3 separate regions of the Homo sapiens genome follow, and all the other regions are linked to region 3. Evidence: fine-mapped expression QTL. A gene starts in region 3. Each other region holds a variant in brackets. All regions are shown on one strand. Distances are between the middles of the regions. Region 1 overlaps TMCC1 (transmembrane and coiled-coil domain family 1). Region 2 overlaps PLXND1 (plexin D1). Region 3 holds the start of PLXND1 (plexin D1).

Evidence for each region. PIP is the estimated chance that this variant, and not a neighbour inherited with it, causes the effect. A credible set is the group of variants that fine-mapping cannot tell apart.
Region 1: its variant is the best candidate, but not a certain one, in a credible set for the expression of PLXND1 in whole blood (INTERVAL, PIP 0.66).
Region 2: its variant is the best candidate, but not a certain one, in a credible set for the expression of PLXND1 in lung (TOPMed, PIP 0.51).

Annotation. Positions count from the first base shown.
Region 1 is chr3:129,739,975-129,748,125 of GRCh38, reverse strand. The region is part of intron 4 of TMCC1 (transmembrane and coiled-coil domain family 1); the gene reads left to right. Among named protein-coding and RNA genes, the nearest start is that of PLXND1, 140 kb to the right of the region's middle. The variant G/A (reference allele first, on the strand shown) is at 3,464.
Region 2 is chr3:129,551,840-129,559,990 of GRCh38, reverse strand. It overlaps PLXND1 (plexin D1), which reads left to right. Exons shown (of 36, transcript NM_015103.3): 32 at 208-371; 33 at 1,416-1,563; 34 at 2,768-2,908; 35 at 3,300-3,374; 36 at 3,563-4,777. The coding sequence ends at 3,679. Among named protein-coding and RNA genes, the nearest start is that of H1-8, 13 kb to the right of the region's middle. RefSeq lists enhancers at 931-1,225, 791-1,680. The variant G/A (reference allele first, on the strand shown) is at 4,378.
Region 3 is chr3:129,602,681-129,610,831 of GRCh38, reverse strand. PLXND1 (plexin D1) reads left to right here and starts at 4,156. Exons shown (of 36, transcript NM_015103.3): 1 at 4,156-5,503. The coding sequence starts at 4,193. LOC124909431 (a long non-coding RNA gene) reads left to right here. Exons shown (of 2, transcript XR_007096079.1): 2 at 478-954. RefSeq lists enhancers at 1,944-2,934, 2,935-3,927, 4,920-5,912, 6,905-7,897 and silencers at 3,828-3,987, 4,138-4,197, 7,332-7,626.

The sequences.
Region 1 (8,151 bases), 140 kb before region 3:
TAATATGGGTAAAATTTCTTTAGGTGTATGTAACATGACCTACTTGCTCAGCTAAGAGTGCTGATTAAGTCCATGTTTTCCTAGTTATTCAAAATAATATATTTCTAAGTCTTATCCTGTGTGAAAATGGTTTAAAGTTCTTTTTTCTTCAAGTTCTCTTCATAGATATTTCCAAGGAGTTTCCTGGATTGTATTCAGTTTACAGGGTTCTTTCTTAGTTATTACTATAGGAGAAAAGTGTGTTTCTGCTACTGCAGGACATGGGTGGGAAGGAGTGAGTACGGACAGGTGACACATCAGAGCCCAGGGGATGTGAGGGGGAAGGAATGGGTCTGTGCAGCTGTACAGCGTGATGATAAGGGGTCGGATTCATGTTGGGTGAGAAGGGAATCCATGGTGCAGTGAAGTTCCTTAGTGTGGAGTTTCAGAGCCCAAGTGGGATGAGGTTGACATCTACACCAGGGAGGTGGTAGCTGCAGAGATAGAAGATTGGTTACATATGGAAGGAGAGGGATTGATAAATACAGTGAGGGTGATGAGAGCAGGTTTCTCATAGTAATAAGAGAGTTCCAAATATGGAAAGGAAGAAAACTACAATAAACCTTGTGGTATTAGATAGGAATATTGTGGTTGTTTCAATTTTAAAATATTTTAAATTATCGAAGTAATTTATAAATAATTTTGAAACAATATAGCTTAAAATGAAGGTATATAAGTTTATAAATGGAGCCAAATATTATGTATATACTCCTGAAGTGTTGCCAGACTTTGCTGAGCTTTGAAAAGAACCATATGGTCCATGGATTTCCTCGGATTATATGTAAATTTGCATGTGTGTGAATTTTTTTTCGGGAGAAAGAATGCATAGTTTTCATTAAATTCTCAGAGGGGTTTGTGATGCAAAAAATGTTGAACTTTTTTTTATATATATGTAACTGAGGGGACTCTGAGTTTATTTTTAGAAATCCTCCTGCAGCTTACGTTAATAGAGCATGTGTGGCCTAATTAAATGTAGGTTTTAAATCAGTCTTCATATATATGAGGAATTAACATTTTATTGAATACCTTTTAATGCCTAGAAGAAAAAGTACTATTATACATTGATTCATTTTCACAGCAATGATTTATTCTCCCAACAATGATACAAAGTAATTATTATCCTGTTGTGCTGATGAGGAAACTGAGATTGGGATTAAAAAGGTTGCCCAATGTTAAAAAACTAGCAAGAGGCCAAGTAAGGTAGTAGGTGTTCTTTCTGCTCCTCCACACTCTTATCTCCAGTGGAGTGCCTGCTGTGTTCAGGGCATTGCACAGGGTGCTGGTGATGTAATACTGAACACAACAGACTCTTACCCCAACCTTGTAAAGAATATAGGGGAATTAGGTATAGGGAATTTTAAACTATTGAGAATGCATTTATTTCAGATATTCCTTATATTGCTCCATTTGCTCTTTTAAGAATGCTAGCAATGTTTATTGTATTTCCTTAAGCCACCCAATACCTTTAGGGGAAAACACCTATTATTCAAATGCACAAGTGAGGCAGAGTATAAATGTGACTTGGCTCATTATCACCAAGTTTACTTGCAGGATCAAATTTAGAACCATGGTTTGTAATACTTTATATTACACAGTAGTCATCAGTCTGCATAGTTAAAAAAAACTAAACCTGTAATCCTAGCACTTTGGGAGGCCGAGGCGGGCGGATCACGAGGTCAAGAGATCAAGACCATCCTGGCCAACATGGTGAAACCCCGTCTGTACTTAAAAAAAAAAAAAATACAAAAATGAATTGGGCGTGGTGGCGCACGCCTGTAGTCCCAACTACTCAGGAGGCTGAGGCAGGAGAATCACTTGAAGCTGGGGGGTGGAGGTTGCAGTGAGCTGAGATCACGCCACTGCACTCCAGCCTGGGCAACAAGAGCAGGACTCCATCTCAGGAAAAAAAAAATTAAACCAGTTTTTAAAGCTATATGCATATTTATTAATTTCTCTCTAAGGGTACTTAGTTGTTTTTTTTACCCCCCTCCTTGCAAGGATTTAAAAAGAGAAAAAGGAAAGAGGTTCAGGGCTGGGTGCAGTGGCTCATGTCTGTAATCCCAGCACTTTGGGAGGCTGAGGCGGGAGGATCACTTAAGGCCAGGTGTTTGAGACCAGCGTGGGCAACAAAGAAAGACCCCATCTGGCTTTTTTTCTTTCCTTTTTTTTTTTTAGGGAGAGTCTCACTGTGTTGCCCAGGCTGGAGTGCAGTGGCACAATCTCGGCTCCCGAGTAGCTGGGATTATATGCAGGTGCCACCACACTCAGCTAATTTTTTTATATTTTTAGTAGAGACGGGGTTTTACCATGTTGGCCAGGCTGGTCTCGAACTCCTGACTTCAGGTGATCCACCCGCCTCGGCCTCCCAAAGTGCTGGGATTTACAGGTGTGAGCCACCATGCCTGGTCCCATCTTACTTTTTTAAAATGAGAAAAGATTCAGCTGTGTCTATTTAAAGGCTTCTCTCTCTCTCTCCTTTGGGAAGGACATGCTTTGTGCAGCTAAAATGGAGAAAGAGTGGCTAAGATCCTTAGGATCCAGAATGTCTGGCAACAAGCCCTAGTGGCTGCAATCACAACTATAAACATACAGCATTTCCCATCAGGGCATTTGCTCTGAAGAGGAGGATTCTTGTGGAAACAAGTAGGCTTAGAGAAATGCAAAACTACTCTTGGCACAGGCTGAGCTGCGGAGTGAAGCGCTCAGTTTAGCACTGTGGCTGAGAAGCTGTTGGTGTTATTCTCTGTGCTCACAAGAGAAGGTGTACAGTTGGTGTAGGATATGACAACAAAATGTTTTATAATCTCATCATACAAGCCCAAGAGAAGAGTGAATTTCAAGAAGTGTGAGTGCATGTTTAAAATTGTAACGAAGTTTTTTTCTCTTTGTTTTTGTACTTTTGAATAAAAATCTTCCTAGTAGATAGCAGTGCCTCCAGAAATGGTAGCTGATACCTTGAAATCTAGTTTAATTTCATTTAGCACATGACAGTGCAGTGCATGTCTTACAAGAAATTTTTATTCTCTCCATTATTACTCAATATGTCTACATCTCCCCTTGAAATTGCTCTATTATTGTGTGATAATGGAGAAATCTCTTAAACTTTCTGAACTGTGAATTTTTCCTTCTGTGGAGCAGTGAGGAAGATTCTTGATGTACTCTAAATGATTAACAAAAAGCATCATAATAGTTCAAGGCACAGATAGGCTTTGTAAGCTGAAAACCGTGGATTTGAAATCCTTCTTTATTACCTCTCAGCTTTGTTACCTTGAGTAAGTTTCTCATCCTCTCAGTTTCATCTTTGAGTGAAGGGTGGTAGTAATTATAACTGCCTCCTGGAGCTGTTCTGAGGATTATATCAAATATATGTGAAACTCTTTGTATATCATACCATACTAACATTATATATTAAATATGTATGATT[G/A]GAAACCTTGGTGATGATAAGGAAGGTGATATATGTGTGTGTATGCATGCTATTTTCTTTAGAAAGTGGTGACGTTATGCTGGGCACAGGTGTGTGTGCTTGTAGTTCCAGCTGCTTGAGAGGCTGAGGTGGGAGGATCACTTGAGCCTAGGAGTTTGAGACCAGCCTGGGCAACATAGCAAGACCTCATCTCTTAAAAAATAATAAAGAGGCTGGGTGCGGTGCCTCACGCCTGTAATCCCAGTGCTTTCGGACGCTGAGTTAGGAGGATTGCTTGAGCCCAGGAGTTCAAGACCAGCCTGGGCAACATAGTGAGACCCTGTCTGTTTATATTAAAAATAAAACTAGAAAAGGAAAAAGAAAGTGGTGAAGTTAAATGGGTTGTATTGAGGTTTCTAAAAACTACGACAACCAATCTTTTTGACATCCTCCTGTGTCCTCCCTTGAAATTGCTACCAGAGCTCCTTGACCTCTAACTTGGTGCCAGTATTAAAGTTAAAAGGTGAAATTGTAAGGTTCAGATATCTTATCAGCTATGTAAGCATCTATTTTGCATCTAACTTGGTACATGGAACACAATATCAGTCAGAATTAATCCAGAAACTTACATAATTTCAAAGAAAGTATTTTAAAATCATACTCTTAGGTGTCACTGAAATTAAAGAGGCTTTTCACTGTGGACAGCTTCATTAGATACTATTATGACTGTACTCTTTTTTTTTTTTTTAAACAAGTGCACTTGGCAAATGACACCTACCAGAATGAAAAGAAATCTGATTTTTTTAAAAAACAGTGAAGTTATTTTTAAAAACTTGATTGGAAAATGAGTTAATAAATATCAAGCACGTTGTGACTTCAGTTAACTTTATTTTTGAAGTTCTGGGTCAAGAATTTTTTCTTTAGCAGGAATGGGCATTTTGCAGATAGGTTAGCTTATTTGCCAGCTATCGTAGCCTTTTTAGTAAAATAAGTCATAAATTGTTTAGAATGAAGAGACTTTTTTTAATCCAAAAGAATCCATGGTTCATTGTAATATAACAATTTTATCAGTATTTCTAATTCTGGTATCAGTCATGCATATTCCATGGTGCCATTTGTATAATGTTACTACAACCCTATCTTGTCACTTTGTGATTTAATTTTTTGCTCTGAATACTTCACATAAACATATAGAGGGGTAGCTGCTTAATTCCACAGATTTACCATAGGCGATACCATGGAGTACAGATGACACTTTTCTACAAAAGTAGTCTTTTATGGAATGTTTAATTCCTTCCTTATCCCAATCCCTCTAGAATTCTTAGTTGATCATTAAGTTCAGATGTACAAACTACAAGCAAATCATCCTCAGAGACTTGGTTCAACCAAGAATTTTTTCTTAAGAAGCTTCAAAGATGAGGAAACTGACAAGTGAGACTCGTCTGTGGAAATATTTCATGGAGGAGTGACTTTTTAGAAAGAGCTTTTTGAAATATAATTCTTATACCATACACCTCACCCATTGAAAGTATACAGTCCATGGCTTTTAGTAGATTCACAGAGTGCAACCATTACTACAATTTTAGAACATTTTTATTATCTCAAAAGGAAGCCCCATACCTCTTAGGCATCACTGCCCAATCTCCCCATTCTCCCCCGGCACTAGGCAATTACTAATCTATTTTCTATCCCTATAGATTTGCCTATTCTGGACATCTTCTATAAAGGGAATCATACAATATGTCGTCCTTTGGGGCTGGCTTCTTTCCAGAAACATGTAATACATGGTCCTTCAGATCTGGCTACTTTTATTTAGCACATTGTTTTGAAGGTTTATCCATGTCATAATGCATTTCTTACTGCAAAATCATATTCTATTATGTGGATATGTCACATTTTATCCATTTATCAGTTGATGGACATTTATGTTGTTTCTACTTTTTGGACAGTATGAATAACGCTGCTGTGAATATCTGTGGAAACATTTATTCATTTCTCCTGGGTGTATACATGTAGGAGTAGATTAATCATTTAGGGAATTGCCAGACTATTTTCCAAACATGCCATACCTTTTACCACTAGCAATATATGAGGGTTTCAATTTCTGCACATTCTTACCAATTGTTATTATTATCTGTCTTTATAGCCATCCTAGTGGGTATGAAGTAGTATCACATTTTTATTTACACTTCCTTGGTGGTTAATGATGAGCTGAGCATCTTTTTATGTGCTTATTGGCCATTTGTAATCATCTTGGAAGAACTGTCTGTTCAGGTCCTCTGTCCATTTTGTAATTGGATTGTCTTTTCAATTTTGACTTATAATTTTTTATATATTCTGTGTACAAGTTCCTTATCAGATGTATGATTTGCAAGATTCTTTCCTCTGTGGTTTTTATCTTTTCACTTTGTTAATGGTGTCCTTTGAAGCATAACAGTTTTTAATTTTGATCATATCTATTTTTTTTCTTTTGTTGTTTATGTTTTTGGTGTCATATCTGAGAAACCACTGCCTATCCTAAATCAAGGACCAGGAAAAAAACACAAACAGACTCATTGACTATTCAAGGTCACAAAGATTTACATCCATGTTTTCTTACGAGAGTTTTAGATTTAGGTCTTTCATCCAAAAGATCAAGACTATTCATCTTTTCCCTGTGAGTTATCTTGACAGAGGAAATGATTCTTCAGCATTGTCTTTAAAGGAGGAATTTAAATAGCAGAAATGATAGCATTCCAGTCTGGTTTCTAGATAAATTATGTGAATTATATGAGATTAAGATAAGATATTTGAATCAGAGAGGTGTTTGCCTGTGTTGTATATAAGTAAGAGTTAAAATACGGAATTAGAGAATGAAGTTGTAGTGGTAGAAGTCTGTTAAGATATAACTGATGATCTCAACCTCTTCTGTTTAATAAGTTGTGGAATCTTCAGTGATTATAATAAGTGTGTGGAGAAATGGAGACAAGTTTAAGTATATGAGAGCTGCTCTAAATTTATAAGATAAAGCCAACAGAAAGCAGTTAAAGCAGAGATCGAGCATAAAAAATGTAATTTATAATTTTATTTCCTTCAAATAAATATAGCAGCACAGAATTAGAGACAATTAACTCAGTGGCAAAGTAGTAGAAAGATTGTTAGTGAAGAGTCAGAAGTCCTTAGTTCTAATTATAATCTATATTAGGTGTGTGACCTTGAATAAATCATGGCCTTCTGAATGGTAGCTTGCCTTTACTGAGGCTCTAACATATGCAGGACTTTTGCAAGCCTCAATCTTCTCTTTTATAAAATGGAGATAATGTCAAATTACTTTGGAAACTTTTTAAACAGCCATACAGGTAGAAGGGATTATTATATTTGAAATTTGGAAATTATTCAGTGCAGTACTACTAGTAGCAGCTGATAGTACATGTGTCTTTATTCAAAACAATTATGTAAGGGATGCTGTATCCTCCTTTTGATGATGAAGAAACCAGTTTTCAGTAATTATGAAAGTTATACTGTCATAGTCAACACAGCAGTGATTCTAATCCAGTTCTTCCTGATTTCTTTATATCACCATGATTTTTGCTTGAAAGATAATAGATCCTGGTGGGTGGGTATGGAAAGGGAATAGGATACTAGCAATGAGACTAAAATTATTAGACATATTAGACATATGAAAGCTTAAGGTATAATTCCAAAGGGGCAATGAGTCCTGAGATTGGTGATCTCAGATGTGAAGTGGAAGAGTGCCATATGTTAATAAGGTTAAAGGTATATGCTATCTGATTAACTTATAAGTACCAGAACTAGATGTTGTAAAGCCCAGTCAAATAATAGTTTATCTGTACGTGTGCTAGAATCTTTGAAATTTTTGTTCAGGAGTCAAAGAAAGAAGACCAGTGAGGTAATGAAGTCACAATGGGGAACAGTGGTAAGTACAAGAGGCCAAAATAAATTACAGCTTGTAGAGATAGGTAGACTTTGCTTTGAACTATGAAAAAATCATTTCTTAGAATTGGTTCTCATATTTATACTCTTCTCACCCCACCGATAAAGGGCCTGTGGTTACTTTCCCAATGTCATGGAACTAAGCATCTCTTGAGTACTTTATAGCTCTGATCTCAGCTTTTTGCATACTTCTCACCCTTCCCGTGGTTGAGTTGAGAACTCCCATGAGTTAGGAAACATTATTTGGGAATATATTAAGAGTCATACCAGAAAGGAAGTACAGAAAAGAGCAGAACAATTTTTATTCCTTGATTTATCCTATGCCATTGCCTTTTTAATGACGAGTACAAAGTTTAAGCTTTACTTGTGCTACTAAGTTATCAAGCAGTGGACATGCTTCTCTTGGATAGAACTGAGGTGTGGAGATGTCATCAGCTGGCACAGGGGAAGCAAAGAACTTTGAACTCTAATTCTGACTAGCAGACTTGCAATTTCTGCATAGAAATTCATAGTGATTGGTATCTAGGAGAATACATCTGAGATGGAAGTATGGAACAGGAAAGGTAACTAGTATATATTGGGCCCAGGCTCCATGCAAGGCAGTCTGAAACACGTGCAGACTAGGACGTCTTCAGAGATTGCAAAGACCTGAGCTGTTCTCACTTACACCGCTCTGTTTCTCTGAAATGGCAGGACTGGGATTCAGAAGGAACAATTGAGTTGAGAAACATTATTTGAGAGAAAACTAATGCTGTATGCTAACCTTGCACGTAAGT
Region 2 (8,151 bases), 51 kb after region 3:
TCTCGACTCCATGTGCCAGTGCCTCGATTAGTCCTTTCAACGCCTCTGGGAGGCAAGTGAGCCAGAGAGGCTCGGTGACCAGCCTGATGCCATGTGGCTTCCTCATTCAGCAGCCTGGCATTTCAAGCTCCGCAGAGCCACCAAGGGTGCCCACTAGCCCTCTGCACGTGGCCCGGGGCTGACGGCGGCCACCCCACTCCCCCGCAGGGCACGTTGCAGAAGTTTCTGGATGACCTGTTCAAGGCCATTCTGAGTATCCGTGAAGACAAGCCCCCACTGGCTGTCAAGTACTTTTTCGACTTCCTGGAGGAGCAGGCTGAGAAGAGGGGAATCTCCGACCCCGACACCCTACACATCTGGAAGACCAACAGGTGGCGGGTGGGGGGGCCGTGTGGACTTCACTGTGCCACTGGGGCCCCTGTGGCAGGGGGTTCAGAGTCTAGTCTTCTGGCCTCGCCTGCTTGGGGTCAAGCCCTCCTCTGCCATTTCCCAGCTGTGTGTTCTCGGATGAGTGACTTAGCCTCTCTGTGCTTCAGTTTCCCCTCCACTGTAAAATGCGACCCATGTTAATGGTGGGAATTAACTAGAAGAGTGCCCAGAAGCATGGTCTAGGTGTTGCCCTTACTATCATTCTCCCGCACCCCTCTCAGGTGGGCACCATCAGCTCCACTTCACAGATAAGCACACTGAGGCTCGGAGAAGCAGCACCTGCTCAAGACCACACAGCCTGGGACAGTAGAGCCAGGCTCGGCCCTACATTATCTGAATCTCTTACCCAGTTGGTAGCCCTCCTTTGAGGCACCTCTTAGCTTGTCGGGGTCATGCACCCCCACAAGAAGTTGCTGGAAACCCAGCCTGACCCTCAGGAAGAATACCACCAGCCCAGGCGCCTCTGTGCAGGGCAGCAGCTTCCTAGAGCTCTGGGGGTACACATGCCCAGGCTGCTGAGTCACTGGGTGGCCTGAGGTGGGGGTGGGGGTGTTGCTCACCCTCTCTGGCCTCTTGAGGACAAGGCCAGAGCTCCAGGCCCTGCCCCCCACAGCCCTGCCACAGCTGCTCTGCTAATGTCGGACTTCCTGCTGCCTGCAAGGGTTCAGGGAGGAGCCAGGGGTGCCCGGGGGCCGGCACCTGGTTCTAATGAGAACCAGGACCTGACTGGAGGCTCAGGAGGGGGTTGGGGGGTACAGCTAAGCCCTGTAGCTCCTGCCTTGCTCCAGCAGGAAACCGGGCTCTCAGCCCCACTGCACCCCAGCTGGCCAGGGATAGGCAAACTAAGGTTCCCAAAGGTCACATCTTGTGACAAGGCTCCAACCTCAGGCCCTTGAGGGACAAAGCCAGCTCTCTCCTCCACAACTGTCCCTCGACTGCTTCCTACCCCACCCTACCCTCACTGTCTTTGTCACCCTACCCCACAGCCTTCCTCTCCGGTTCTGGGTGAACATCCTGAAGAACCCCCAGTTTGTCTTTGACATCGACAAGACAGACCACATCGACGCCTGCCTTTCAGTCATCGCGCAGGCCTTCATCGACGCCTGCTCCATCTCTGACCTGCAGCTGGGCAAGGTCAGCTGTTCCCAGGACCAGGCCAGGCCCATGCACAGGGCCAGAGTGGGGTGCCGACCATGGGTAGCCTCCTCGACTCTCTGAGGCTGAGCTCAGAGATCTTCCTGGGAGGGGAACCAAAAGATCTCAGGTCTAGGGGATGTGGGATGAGTGACTCATTCAGACAGGGAGACACCTAGAAGCCAGTACCTTCCATCAGAAACTCTGTATCGCTGCAGACCAACTGCACATGCTGCAGCTGTGCCTGGCACTGGCTTTGAACACAGGCCTGAGAACCCGGTGTGGGAAAGCCAGTATGAGCTTGGACAACCTGCTTGGTCAGGCACAACATCATCTGAAAACCGGGCCAGGCTCTGGGCAGTAGCCCCTGAAAGTCAAAAGCCATTCAAGCGAGCATTCAGTGAAGGGGTGGGCAGAGGGGTGATGGGTGGCTAGGAGCTCTGAGATTCATGCGGTGTGTTGGGGGCACACAAGGCTGTGTCTGGCTTTAGAGGTTGAAGATGAAAGAGGATGGCCTTCCAGGCAGAGAGAACGGCGCAGGCAAAGACAGGGAGGCAGGAAAGCAGCCGGTTGCTGTGAGCAGGGATGAGATTGTATCATTAAAGCTGGCACTGCAGGATTGGTCCAGGTCGTGTGTGACCCTGCATTTAGCCCACGCATTTCAGAGACGGACCACGGGAAGGAGAAAATGCCATCGCTCCACTACTACTCACGTACTGCCTCCGAAGGCAGGGTGCCCGTGACTGACAAAGAACTGGGAGTGTTCTTGGCACTTCTTTCAGGCGTTAGGAGCATGTGGTGGGAAATATTCCACTGAGCCAGCACTCAGGCTTCCAGGAATCCTAGCCACCAAGACCTATCACCCTGAGAAGGACACATCCTTGTTACGTGGAATGGGCTGCGTGCAGTGAAGAGCTGGCATGCCCGTGCACTTTTCCCCTGAAAGAAGTAGGGCCCCTCCCCACCCACATCATTGTCCTAACAGTCCTGGGGAAAGTAGGCGGGGCAGACAGAGCACAGTGAGGAGCCCCTGGTCTGGGGCCGGCTGAGTGCGGGGACGTTCAGTGACCGGGTGAGACTCTTTGGGCCTCGGGGGCCTGCTAAGGTCACTTATGTGGCAGGAGGGATGAGGGCTCATCCAGAAAACGACCAGATCCGTCCTTTCTCCAGCAGCCATCTAACACCCTCGCTCTTCTCTGCCCAGGATTCGCCAACCAACAAGCTCCTCTACGCCAAGGAGATTCCTGAGTACCGGAAGATCGTGCAGCGCTACTACAAGCAGATCCAGGACATGACGCCGCTCAGCGAGCAAGAGATGAATGCCCATCTGGCCGAGGAGTCGAGGGTGCGGTGGCTCGGCGGCGGGGGATGGGGGCCTGAAGAGCTGAGGGATCGGGGGTCGGGGGCTGGGCCTCAATGCCTCCACTGGAGTAAGGGCAGGGAGCGCAGAGGGCATTTCAGAAGTGGCTGTGGCCTCTTGCTGGCCTGCAAATTCGTCATGCATTTTCCCAGAGTTTGAGGAGCGGGGGCAGGAGAGCACCCTCTGGATGGAGAGGAGATTGGACTTCAGGGTCCGGGAAGCCGTCTTCGTCCATGGGACTTGAGGGGCCTCATCGCTGAACTGTTCTGTGGGGGCCGTGGGGAGTTGGGGATTGTGTGCAAGCAGCTGGCTTTGCTGGGACTAGGCTCAGCTTTGACCGCTGGGCTAACCTCCTCCCCATCCTGCCTCCTTATAGAAATACCAGAATGAGTTCAACACCAATGTGGCCATGGCAGAGATTTATAAGTACGCCAAGAGGTATCGGCCGCAGGTGAGTGCCCCAGGGTGAGGCACCTGCCCTCGGGGTAGGTGAGCTTCCTACTCAAGGACACACATCTCAGGGTGCTTGCCCCTAATGGACGGATGTCACTCGTGGTAGACGTTCAGGGGTGTGTTCTCTCCCACGAACTGAGGCAGGGCTACCGGCCATGGCCCGGCTGACTCCGCTGCTCCCCTCAGATCATGGCCGCGCTGGAGGCCAACCCCACGGCCCGGAGGACACAACTGCAGCACAAGTTTGAGCAGGTGGTGGCTTTGATGGAGGACAACATCTACGAGTGCTACAGTGAGGCCTGAGACACATGGAGAGTTGGTCAGGCTGCTGCTGGGAGAAATGGACGCCCACTGGGCCTCAACTTGATCTTCTACCCCGTGCCTGTGACTCAGACTGGGAAATACTGAGCAGAGACGGCTGGGGCGGGGGCAGGAGGAGGGGCTGCTCTCTGAGACAGGGGCGCCCCCGCCTTGACCCCTGGGCACCTCCATCCCCTCCCACCTGTCCCCAGATCAGTCTCTGGGATGGAGGCCAGAGAGCTGGTCAGGCTCCCCCATCTGCCCAGCACGGCCTGCACTGTGCCCACCCACTTGCTCCACAACGTCCAGTTGGTCCTGCTGCCAAGAGCCCCGTGCATCCAGGCGGCCAAGCACAAACTGGGGGAGAGGAGGCCGCCAGCCCGGAGGCTGCAGCCCAGAAACTCTACCTCATCCACACTGGTGCAGGGAGCCCTCCTTGAACTGACCTTTGATTGGTTTCTGCTTCAACTACCAAAATGTTATCTCCACTTCCCCCTCACCCGTAGAGGATCCTGGCCACAGACAGTTTCAAGTAGTGTCAGATTTTTGTTGCTTGGGCGGCTGTTGGTAGAGTGGGCAGTGCCCGCGCCATGGGGTGCTCTGTGGGCTTCTCCAGGAGCAGGGAGGGTGGAGGGGAGGGATGGGGGGCACAGGAGCTGGGAGCCCCGTCTCCAGGAAAAGGAGAGGGGTTAAGATGCACC[G/A]AGGCTGTAGCTGGGCTACTTGATCTTGCTGAAAGTGTTTCTAAAGATAGCACCACTTTTTTTTTTAAAGCTTTTATATATTAAAAAACGTATCATGCACCAACTGTGAATAGCTGCCGCTTGCGCAGAGGACCCGGGGAGGGGTCCCGAGAGGCTCCCCATGCAACACTGGAAATGACTGTTCCAGAGAGCGGGCAGACCTGGCAGAGCGCCCCTGGCGCCTGAGACTACCACCCACTCCGTTCCTGCCAGAAACGACCCTCTGTGGCCGATGGGCCATGCGGGCCCCTCGCAGCCAACTCAGCCAGTGTTGGGACTGGCTCAGAGCCCATGGGGGCTGGAGGGGGGCAGCTGGGACTCTGGAATCTTCTTTATAATAAAAGCCTTACGGACAAACCTACTGTGGGCTCCAGCCTTTGTCCTGAGATAGCCAAGCGGGAGAATGGGCAGTTTCTTTACCAGTTTGTGAGAGAGAGGAGGGAGGGAGCCTGCCGTCCCTCCTGTCTCAGCTGCACTCTTGAGGTTTGGGCAGACACCTGACTAGCTTCTGAGAAGGCAGTCAGAGGCCAGGAGATGAAACGAGACGGTGCAGGCTGCATGCATGCTGTGGGCCCGGCCCAGAGCTGCCATTCCTTAAGCTCTGAGGACACCCCGGGACCTCCAGGAAGATTTCACAGCTGCTGTGTGCTGCCTGCAACTGGGTGGGCCCTGCTCCTAACCTCATCTCTAACAAGCCCGTCAGGAATGTGCTAGCATCCCTGTATGACAGACGCAGCAACTTGAGGCTCAGCACAGCTGAAGCAATTCTCAAGGTCACACAACCAGGAAGGGACAGAATAAGGACCAGGTCCCATGGTCCTTCCGGGCCAGAGTCTCCACAGTGGTCCCCAAAATGGGCGGGGAGGCCAAAGGTGACCACCCTGGAAAGGGAACTGACACTTAACTTACCCCGAATTTCTCATCAAGCTTAAAAAATACGTAGCATTAAGCTCATTTCTCAGACAAGGAAGCAGGCAGTTTAACCCCCAAGCCCAGTTTAACCCTAAACGCTGTTCCCCACAAGTACAGGCTGTTCCTCACCCCTGCCCACAAGAACAATGAACCTGATGCAGACACCCCTTTCCAGCCCTGCTGGCTCCTCTCCAACCCCAGGGAAAGATCTCGAGAGCCAGCTCCAAAGGTACAGCAACTCCACTTAATTTCTTGCTTTTTTGAAGGAAAAATAGTTACACATGTATTTATCAAGAGTAAGAACTAGGACAAAAGATTCATAAAATTTAAACAAAATCCCACAAATACCAGTTCTAAAATTAATGAGAACAGAAAAGTGAGAACAGTAAACAACCTTTTGCTTTAAAAATAGCTTTTTCCTACAGTGGCTTCTGTGTGGAGAGATAGTCTTTATCTTTCACATTTTCTATTCTGAGCATTGATTCCTTCTTATTAAGCAGCAGATTTTCTAATTTAAGTTATCAGCACATTTGATAGCATTTTGAGGGTGAGGGGGGTGGGTGTGATTCTGGAATGAATACACGGTTCCCAGAGAAATGTAGGAAGCACAAAAAGCGTGAAGAAAATAAAAGCTGCCCTAACCGTTTGTGGCGAGCGTCTCTGAGAACGCCAGCCGCACGGGGCGCTTGGATGGGGCGGGGCCGAGGAGTGAACTCAGGATCAGGGTGTGCACACCATTTTGCAACCTGATTTTCCCCCATGCGACAATATGTCAGTAACATCTTTCTATGTCATTAAATATTCCACAGCCTGTCTTAATGTCTGATTAACATTCAGTTCCTCCTTGACGTTTAGAAATGTATTTGCAAATGGAGGAAATCTCTAGTTTCCAGAGTCGTTTCTCAGCGCAGAAGGTGGCCACCTTCCATGAACCAATTATAATCCTTATCTGGGGCTCTGAGGACCTGGCAGCTGTGGGCAGGAGGGAGGTTCCTACCCTTTGAGGGTCATAGGAGGCTAGGGACCCCTGATGTAGCATCCTTAAACTAAACTCCTTTGAAAAGGAAAGAAACCATTGCAGCTAAGGGAGGTAACTTGCCCAAGGTTTCATGGATGCTAGACACCCCCCACCCCTGTCCCCAGCTCATGGACGTGAGATGCCCACTGATGCCCCCCGCACTGCAGGCTGCCTGGGGGTGCCACAGCACTGGGCCAAGCCGTGAATGAGCAGTGGCAGGAGCAGACCCCTCCTCAGGAAGCACCAGCCCGGCCCCATCCCACCATCTGCTCTGGGTGCCCTTCTGGGTCCTGCTGGCAGCCACATTACAGACACCCCAGGGGGGCTGTCAGCACATCTAGGCAAAGCCGGGATTCCAGGAGGAGAGGGTGGGGTGGTGGAGCAGGGGCAGGAAGGGAGCAGCTGATGCCCCATGCTGAGCAGCCTGCTTCCCTTTGTGCCCCGTCTGCCCCCTTCTCAAGTCCTGTGCAGTTTGCCTCTGACTCCCTTTAGTCCACCCCTTCCTTCTCTCTGTCCTCCGTGGCTAGGCTGCCACCTCTCATCAGGACCATATCTCGGCAGCCTCCTGGCACGTGCCAAGTCCTCACCTCAGGAAATGGTCACCCAGCAGTCACTTAGCTATCTAGACCCCAAATTGTGGACTGACTCATCAGTGACCCTTCCTACATCCAATCCATCAGCAGAGCCCGTTCACACCATCTTCAACAGCGATCCAGAAGCTACCACTTCTAACCCTCCCTCTGTGAGCATGTCCTGGCTGGTCACCACCCCCTTCATCTGGGTTGTGGCAGGAGCCTCCTCACAGGCCTGTCTGCCCGCCCACATCCCTGCAGAGACTCTGTTGCTTGCCGTCCTCTAATGGTTCCTTATGACAAAGCCCACCGTGCTTGCCCTTGGCTTACAAGGCCCTGCGTGATCCAGCCGCCATCTACCCTGCAGCCCTTGTTCCAGTGAAAGGAAGGGGATCTGTTTAGAAAGATATATTGCTATGGGACACACCACCCCAGTACCTAGTGGCTTAAAATAACAGCAGTCACTTATTTTGCCCACGAATCTGCAATCAGGGCAGGGCTTGGCAGGAAAGGCTTGTCCCTGTTCCACCAGGTTTCTGCTGGGCCAGCTCAATTAGGGCTGGAAGATGCAGTTCCAACACGCATTCAGATGGTGGCACGTGGTACCAGCTGGTCAGAGAGTTCAGCAGGAGCTGAAAAATGGAGTCCTCAGTTCCTCTCCACAAGCTGCATGGGCTTTCCCATAGAGTGGTGGCCAAGTTTGAAGAGTGAGTATCACAAAACAAAAAGTGTCCTCAAACACAAGAAGTAGAAGCTGCCTTAAGGTGGGGCCCAGAAATTATCACAGCGTCATTGTCACCAAATTCTACTGGTCAAGTAATCATGGAGCCCAGAGTCAAGAGGTAGGGACACAGAGCCTGTCTCTCCGTGTGAGGAGTGCCGCAGATGTTTTTAAAGCACCTTGGACCTCGTCTCCCATCCCTGTGCTCCTCTTTACTGGGCTCTAGCCACACAGACCTTCCTGCAGCTCCCAGCGTGAGGAGCATGTTCCCACCCCAGGGCCTTTGCATTCACTCTTCCTTCTGCTGAAATGGTACCCCCTCCAGACAGAGATCCTTGCTCAGACAGCCCGTCCAACCCTGTCTAAACTAGCAGCCAGCCCTACCCACCCCGCTGGAGGCCCAGCCCCACCTCTTCTTCAGAGCACAGGCGCTGGCTGCAGAGTAGGACACCTGTCAGCCTGTCGCAGTGCCTGGCCCAGGAGCACTCGGGAACCAGTGGCTGAAAGGTCTC
Region 3 (8,151 bases):
GGAGGGATAGCATTAGGAGATATACCTAATGTAAATGACGAGTTAATAGGTGCGGCACACCAACATGGCACCTGTATACAAACGTAACAAACCTGCACGTTGTGCACATGTACCCTAGAACTTAAAGTATAATTTAAAAAAAAGGGGGGTTGCTAAGACCCCCCCCGCAGGGTTGCTCCCACGGGGAAATGAGACGGGTCCAGCCCCCGAGAAGCAGCAGTGATGGCTCCCGGCACCACCTAGGCCCATGGCTGGATTGCCAAGCCGTCCCTAGGACTCTTGTTTCCAGCACCTTCCTGTGGCTGAGGCGGTGCTCTAAAGCATTAACCTTGCAGGGGCATTTCCTGCAAGGAAACGTTCTCAGAGGCCAGGCCCAAGGGACGGGAGGGCAGGAGCCCCCTCCTCCCAGCGCAACCCTGGCCCCACTGTTATTTTTTCCAATTGAAGAAGAAAAACATTTCCTCTGTCTCCTCACAGCTCTGCCCTGGGCAGTCAGAGGTGAGAATGGACAGGACAGGGTGGGAAGCCCACCCAGTGGGGTGGAAGGCCCAGGCCCGCCTTCTCCGAGCCAGCATAGCCGTTGACCACCGTGCCCCAAGCAAGACTGCCCTGACTCGGCCACCAGGTCCTCGTCTTCAAAGGCACTGCTGGACATTTCCCAAATTTCAGGCATTTTGGTGGCATCTGGATTATCACCTATTTCACATTTGTCTTTAACTCACTTTTAAAGGACTTCAATCAATGCATTTATCAAGGAAGCTTTACATCATTACTGTACATGGAAAACCAGTAGCACTTGCCAAAACCAGAAAGTAACGGCAAGTACAAAGAAAACAAAGCGCTATCAGTACATTCTAGCACGCTGATGTCAACAGCCCTGAGTTTGAGACCTTCTCTCTATTAAAAAGAGACAGTGACAAATGTTACAGTCATTAAAGACATGTTAGCCTCAAACCAAGACCTTTTCCTTGATATAATCAGACTTGAACAAAAACTGAAAAAGGCCCAAATTGCAGTGTGAATAACCAACTAGGTCTGGCTATTCTGGGTTAGTTCATTCCAAGTTAGTTATTGCTGGGTCCCACCTAATCCCCACTCCTGAGTACCTTTCATCTCCCCTTGGTTCCCTCCAAAATTCCCTCTGGAAGAACACCTCATTGCATCTTAGTAAGGCCAGGGAAGGTGTGGTTTGTTCCTTCCTTTATTCATTCATTCAGCCAGTAATTGTCAGCACCTCCTCTGCCCAGCCAGGGGTATAGGGGCTGCCACCATGAGCCATCCTGGCCTGATGGTGCTCCCAGCTAATGGGTAGAAGGGAGAAATCATAAGATGTGGAGCCAGATCTGGGTTTCAATCCTTACCTTGCTAATGCCCCTCAGTTTCCCCATCTGTGAAATGGGTTTGCTGACCACAGCCTAGTCAGCTGGCTGCAAGGATGGTGTAAGATCTGGTAGGGCAGTGCTGGGCACAGGATTCACTCTCACCGTCTGGTGGCTCTGCTAGCCACATTGGGGCTCAGGACAGGAGGTGGAGCCCTGGTCTTTAGTTGCAATGCCCCCCACCCCAACTCCTGGCTCTAACATGGGCTTCAGGGGTCATGGTTCACTGCCACAAGGCGGGGAGAAACTGGTGTTTGCTAAGAGCCTTGTTGTGCTTGACACCTGTTATGTTATATTCTCCATCTCACACCCTCCCAGGGGCAGGTGTTCTGCTACGATTGTCCTCATTTTACAGTTGAGGAAACTGAGGCTCAGAGAGGGTGAGTGCCTTGCACAAGACCACACAGCACTTCTCACCTCCAGTTGATGTGAGGATACTCAGACCCGAATACCCTTCACCTAGAGAGCTCCTAAACCCCACTGCTCAGCTTGGCAGGGAGCTTGTGTCCCAAGTGCCCAGGATCATCACCACAGGCTGGTCTAAGACAACACTGAGCATTATCCTCACGGCTCAGTGGGGGGAGCTGCAGGATGCAGCAAGATGAACCAGATGAGCGGGAGACAGGAAGGAAGAGAGGAGGGGCTGGAGAGGGAGTGGGGGTGAGGGATAGGGAGGGAGACAGAGAGAGAGACAGAGATAGAGACACAGAGAGACAGATGAAGAGTGGAAAGGGAAGGGGGCAAGACACTGAGAGAAGGAGAGACAAAGAGAGTGAACGGGAGGAGCAAGACAGATAGGAACAGAGATGGGTGGGGGCAGGAGAGAGAGAGATAAGACAGAGAGACCAGCGGATGGACTGGGGTGGGGGCACTGAGGATGTGAGTGAGGAGGAGGGGCATGGAGGCAGGCCCCATGCACCCCTGCTGGGCTCTGCAGTTGGCCCCCACGGGTGGCACGATGTGCGCCTTCTCCATCCAGAGAGGAAGACAGGGACACAGTCCCACGGGCAGTCCCCTGAGTGGCTCTTGGTGGGTGGATGGGCCTGGGAGGGGGCCTCCAATTTCCTGCAGCTCAACACTCCCGGCCATCAAAGCAGTGGCCAGACCAGGGCTGAGGGGTCTGGAACAAGGCGGGCAGGATGGCAGGAAGGCGAGGGTGTTGAGGGAAGTGGGGGGCGGCTGCAGGCCCAGCCTTTCCTGCCGGCCCCATGGTGCACAGACACCCCTGCCCTTCCTTCCTGGTTGGGTGGGAAAGAGGAAAATGAGGTCCCGCTACTCTCAGAGTGAGGCCCACCGGGCACCCTGTGGAAGCTGGGGGTCTGATGGGAGGCCCCGTTCTGAGAGGTCGGAGCTGAAGGGCTTTTGCTTTCAAACACTGTAGCTCTGCTCCTCATGAGCTGTGCATCTTGGGCCAGTCCCTTCCCCTCAGCCTTGGTTTCCATATCTGGAAGATGGGTTACCAATAGCGCTCGCCTCGGGGGAATCTGTGAGGAAAAAGAGAGCCCGTACATGGCAAGTGCTTGGCACAGTGTCTGGCACGGGCTAGCCCTGTGTGAGCACCCCCGCAAAACAGCCACGGCGCATGGTCCTCACAGGGCTGTGACCTTGGAACCAGGCTGCCTGCCCCTAACGCTGCTTTTGAGATCAAGAACCCTGCCCAGTGCCGGCTTTTGTGGGACTAATCTTCCACTAAGCCTGGGAGGATGTCAGGGAAAGTGCCTGGCGGGGGTGCCAGGGGTGGGGGTGCGGCTGGGTCTCCACAGGAGGCAACTGTGGGCTCCAGGACCAAGGCCTTGCTCTGGCTATCGGTTGTGGGCCACTGGCTGGAACTATTTCCTCTCTCCATGTTTTCCTCATTTATATATCTGACCCTGAGCACTGGTCCCTCTGGCCCTGCCACTTGTAAATCCCTTTTATGGGTCTGGGGTTTGGGGGACAGATTATGGGGTCTGGGGGGCCCGACTGGCCGGCACCGGGGGAGCGAAGGCCTGGACAGTGCCTGAGAAAGGTGGTGGAGGGAGGCTGAGTGTGGAGGGGAGACACAGGGTTCGGGAAGGCAGAGGGAGAAGGAAAGGGGAGCTCAGAGGGACCGAGAGAGGGACGGAGGGTCCGAGGGGGAGGCAGAGGGAGCCACGGAGAGAGGGAGCGAGCGTCAGGGACGGAAAAACGGAGCAGGAGAGAGAAGGAGACTAGAAAGGGCCGGGGGCGGGGCTGCCAGGGACTGGAGAGCGAAGCGGAGTCGGAGGGAGAAGGAGAAGCAGAGGCAGAACCCGGAGAAGCGCCACACGCGCGGAGTTTGGGGTGGGGACAGAGACGGAGAGACGCAGAGACCGAGAGACGCAGAGAGAGGGAGAGACGGGGTGGGGGAGAGGGCGGAAAAGAGAAAACAGGCGCGAGCGAGGCAGGCCAAGCGGCCAAGTGGGAGGAAAGAGCGAGGAGAGCGAGCGACGGCGGCGGCGGCTACGGGGAGGGACCCTGGGGCCGCGGGCGGGTCCTGGAGGGCGCGGGCGGCGGGACCCGCGGACGGCGGGGCGTGGCCCAGGGCGGCCAGGGGCAGGCGGGGGTCCCGGGGGCGGGCGGGGCCGGGGCGGGGAGTGAGGGCGTGTCCGCAGCGGAGCCGCCCCCGCCCCGCCCCCGGGCTGCGCGGCGAGGCTGACCCGGGCCCGGGCGCCGGGGTCGGGGGCGGCTGGCGCGGGCAGGAAGCGCATCGCGGCCCGGGCCCGCCCCCCGCCTCCCGCCGCCTCCGGGCTCCCGGCTCCCGGCCGCGCCTCGCCCCATGCACTCGCCGCGCCGCGCAGCCCGCGCACGCCCGGATGGCTCCTCGCGCCGCGGGCGGCGCACCCCTTAGCGCCCGGGCCGCCGCCGCCAGCCCCCCGCCGTTCCAGACGCCGCCGCGGTGCCCGGTGCCGCTGCTGTTGCTGCTGCTCCTGGGGGCGGCGCGGGCCGGCGCCCTGGAGATCCAGCGTCGGTTCCCCTCGCCCACGCCCACCAACAACTTCGCCCTGGACGGCGCGGCGGGGACCGTGTACCTGGCGGCCGTCAACCGCCTCTATCAGCTGTCGGGCGCCAACCTGAGCCTGGAGGCCGAGGCGGCCGTGGGCCCGGTGCCCGACAGCCCGCTGTGTCACGCTCCGCAGCTGCCGCAGGCCTCGTGCGAGCACCCGCGGCGCCTCACGGACAACTACAACAAGATCCTGCAGCTGGACCCCGGCCAGGGCCTGGTAGTCGTGTGCGGGTCCATCTACCAGGGCTTCTGCCAGCTGCGGCGCCGGGGCAACATCTCGGCCGTGGCCGTGCGCTTCCCGCCCGCCGCGCCGCCCGCCGAGCCCGTCACGGTGTTCCCCAGCATGCTGAACGTGGCGGCCAACCACCCGAACGCGTCCACCGTGGGGCTAGTTCTGCCTCCCGCCGCGGGCGCGGGGGGCAGCCGCCTGCTCGTGGGCGCCACGTACACCGGTTACGGCAGCTCCTTCTTCCCGCGCAACCGCAGCCTGGAGGACCACCGCTTCGAGAACACGCCCGAGATCGCCATCCGCTCCCTGGACACGCGCGGCGACCTGGCCAAGCTCTTCACCTTCGACCTCAACCCCTCCGACGACAACATCCTCAAGATCAAGCAGGGCGCCAAGGAGCAGCACAAGCTGGGCTTCGTGAGCGCCTTCCTGCACCCGTCCGACCCGCCGCCGGGTGCACAGTCCTACGCGTACCTGGCGCTCAACAGCGAGGCGCGCGCGGGCGACAAGGAGAGCCAGGCGCGGAGCCTGCTGGCGCGCATCTGCCTGCCCCACGGCGCCGGCGGCGACGCCAAGAAGCTCACCGAGTCCTACATCCAGTTGGGCTTGCAGTGCGCGGGCGGCGCGGGCCGCGGCGACCTCTACAGCCGCCTGGTGTCGGTCTTCCCAGCCCGGGAGCGGCTCTTTGCTGTCTTCGAGCGGCCCCAGGGGTCCCCCGCGGCCCGCGCTGCTCCGGCCGCACTCTGCGCCTTCCGCTTCGCCGACGTGCGAGCCGCCATCCGAGCTGCGCGCACCGCCTGCTTCGTGGAACCGGCGCCCGACGTGGTGGCGGTGCTCGACAGCGTGGTGCAGGGCACGGGACCGGCCTGTGAGCGCAAGCTCAACATCCAGGTACACCCGGGCGGTGGCGGCGGCGGCGGCGGCGGCGGCGGCGGGGGCGGGGGCGGGGGCGGGCGGGAACCGAGCGGGTCGTGAGCTGAGTGGGTCACAGGTGGGAGCGCGCAGAGATCCAGATGTACGTGGAACCCAGGTGTGCACGCGAGAATACAGGTGTCCCCCGAGGGGTACTACTGGCGCCTGTATGGCCCAGGTGGGCATGTGCAGGGACTCAAGTGAGTGCCGGCTCATGGGCGCGCATACCTAGGCGTACTGGGAGGGGTCCAAGTTGCCACAGGTACCCAGGTGCGCATAAAGCCCAGGTATGCACGTGAGGGTCACAGGTGCATGCTGAGGGCGCAGTAAGTGACTGCATGCCTGACCAAAGTTGTGTTCTGGGGCCACTGCGTGAGCCTGTCAGAGTTACCATTGCACGTTGGTGATGGGTGCATGGGTGTGGCAGGTGTGCAAGGAGGCACACAGGTGTGCACCAGGGCCCTGCAGATGTCTGCATGGACTTGTGTGCCAGCAAGCTGGGGCCTGAAGACGCACAGGGCAGACAGGTGTACTGCACAGACACTGGTACAACGGGACAGGGCTAGGTGTGCAGTGGGATGTGCGTGGCAGGGGACGCAGGTATTTGGGCATGAGTCGGTACTCTGAGGAGGCTGCATGGTTGGCAAACAGGTGTGTGCCTGAGGCCAACTTTTATTCACCTATTCTGCAAATATTTCCTGAGCACCTAGTATGTACCAGGTGTGGGAGTCTGGGGTAAACAATAGCACTTGTGGAGTGCCAGCTAGGGGCATCACATGTCACAATTCCCAGTTCTCAGAACAACCCTCTCAGGTAGCCTCTATTCTCATCACATTTTACAGATGAAGAAACAGGCACAGAGAGGTTAAGCAACTTGCTGAGGATCACACAGTTGGGCACTAGCAGAGGTGGATTTGAATCCAGCCTGTCTGGCCTCAGCATCTGTGTTTTTAATGCCCAGCCTTTGCTGCCTTCTGGACTTGGATCTCAGAGTGCGTGTGTTTTGGGGGCGTCCCAGGCAGCTGGGGTGGGCAGATGCCAGGGCCAGGAGAATGGAGGGATGTGAACAGGGGTGTTTTGGGGGCAGGAGAGGGCCGTGGGGCTCAGTGGGGAATGAGGAGGAGTACAGGCAGGCATGGGGCCCAGGTGTCTGAGGCTGGGTTGGGCAGTAGCAAGGGGGGCCAGGTTGACGGAATCAGCATGTGTGTTGACATGACAAGGGTGCGGGAGGGGACTTGGTGTGGTTCCCTGAAAGGAAGTTCATGGCAAGGGATTGCTCCTCACACTGGCTTTGGGAGCTGGGTCTGTTGATCCCCATAGTTCACCCTGAGGAATGAGGCCCCAGAATGACACTGGGGCCTTTCCCACACCCTCCACCCATCTGAGTCTGGCGAGCCCACTTCAGCTCCACTGCCTGCCATTCCCTTAGGAAGCTGCATCTCCATCAGCAAAATGCAGAACTCAGCCTTCTTGTGGTGACCCAAGCCTTCCTTGGGGCCCCACCCTGTCCCTTCTCCATGGCTGTGACAAGAATTTCATGAGATTAACCATTCCTCTGTGGGCGGGCCCAACACTGGGGCTTTGAGAAAATGCAGATTCCTTCTCCCAAGGTCGAGGTCGGTCTCCCACGACTGCCCACCATCTGGCCGGCCACCCTGAAAGTAAAGGTCACGGTGGGTGAGCAGGGCAGACAGTCCAAAGGGTGGTGGGGCTGCTTGCCCTGTGCCATGGTTGGTTCATCCACCATCTCCACCCCAGAGCTTCATCTCGCAGGCAACTGTGTTTGGCACTGGGGGTCTCAGTGGGGAGTCGCTGAATGGAGAGAAGTGTCCTGTGGACTGAGGGCCTTCCTCCAGTAGTTTCAGGCCCTGTGTCTCGGCCCTTTGGTGTAAGCTGATCTGTGGGATTCCTTAGGCCAGCCCAGGGTTCCCTCCCCCTCTGGCAAGAACCATTCTGGTTCCCACGGTCCGCTCCCTCGGTGCAGTGACTCACCCAGCTGAGGGGGGCTGGAGCTTCTCTACCTAAGGGGACAGGGCCTCTCCAGGGACACAGCCCCAGGACAGAGTGGCGAAGGGCCTCTTCCCCACCCCAAGGCCACAGATTCCGGCTGCGGCCTTCCTTGGTCACCCTCCCTGTGTTTTCCACACCCTTCTCCTCTTCGCCGTGCCCGCTGTGGGCACAGGCCAGTGCCACTTGGCAGTATCTCCCAGAGGTGCTCAAGGTCCCCGGTCTGGGCCTCTAGCATGGGCAGGGGTGGGGGAGGGATCATTATTCTTGCTCCAGGCTGTTGCCAGCTATGCAGCGACAGATTCAGAACCTAGACTTTGCATCAGGCTGCTTGGGTTCAAGTCCCACTTTGTCACTTCCCAGCTGTGTGACCTTGGCCAAGGAACTTAACCTCTCTGGGCCTCAGTTTCTTCATCTGTGAAGTGGGGACAGTAAAAGCAATCCTTATCCCAAAGCATTGTTTTAAGGACTAGATGAATCGATAAATGCAGCTCAGTGTACCCAGTACACAGTAAGCACCAAGCAGATGGCAGTTCTTCTTGTTATTACTCTAAGGGACATTATTAGCACAGGTCTCTGCTTGGTCCTGGAGAGCAGTTGCCTAATCTGGCTTGTTCTGC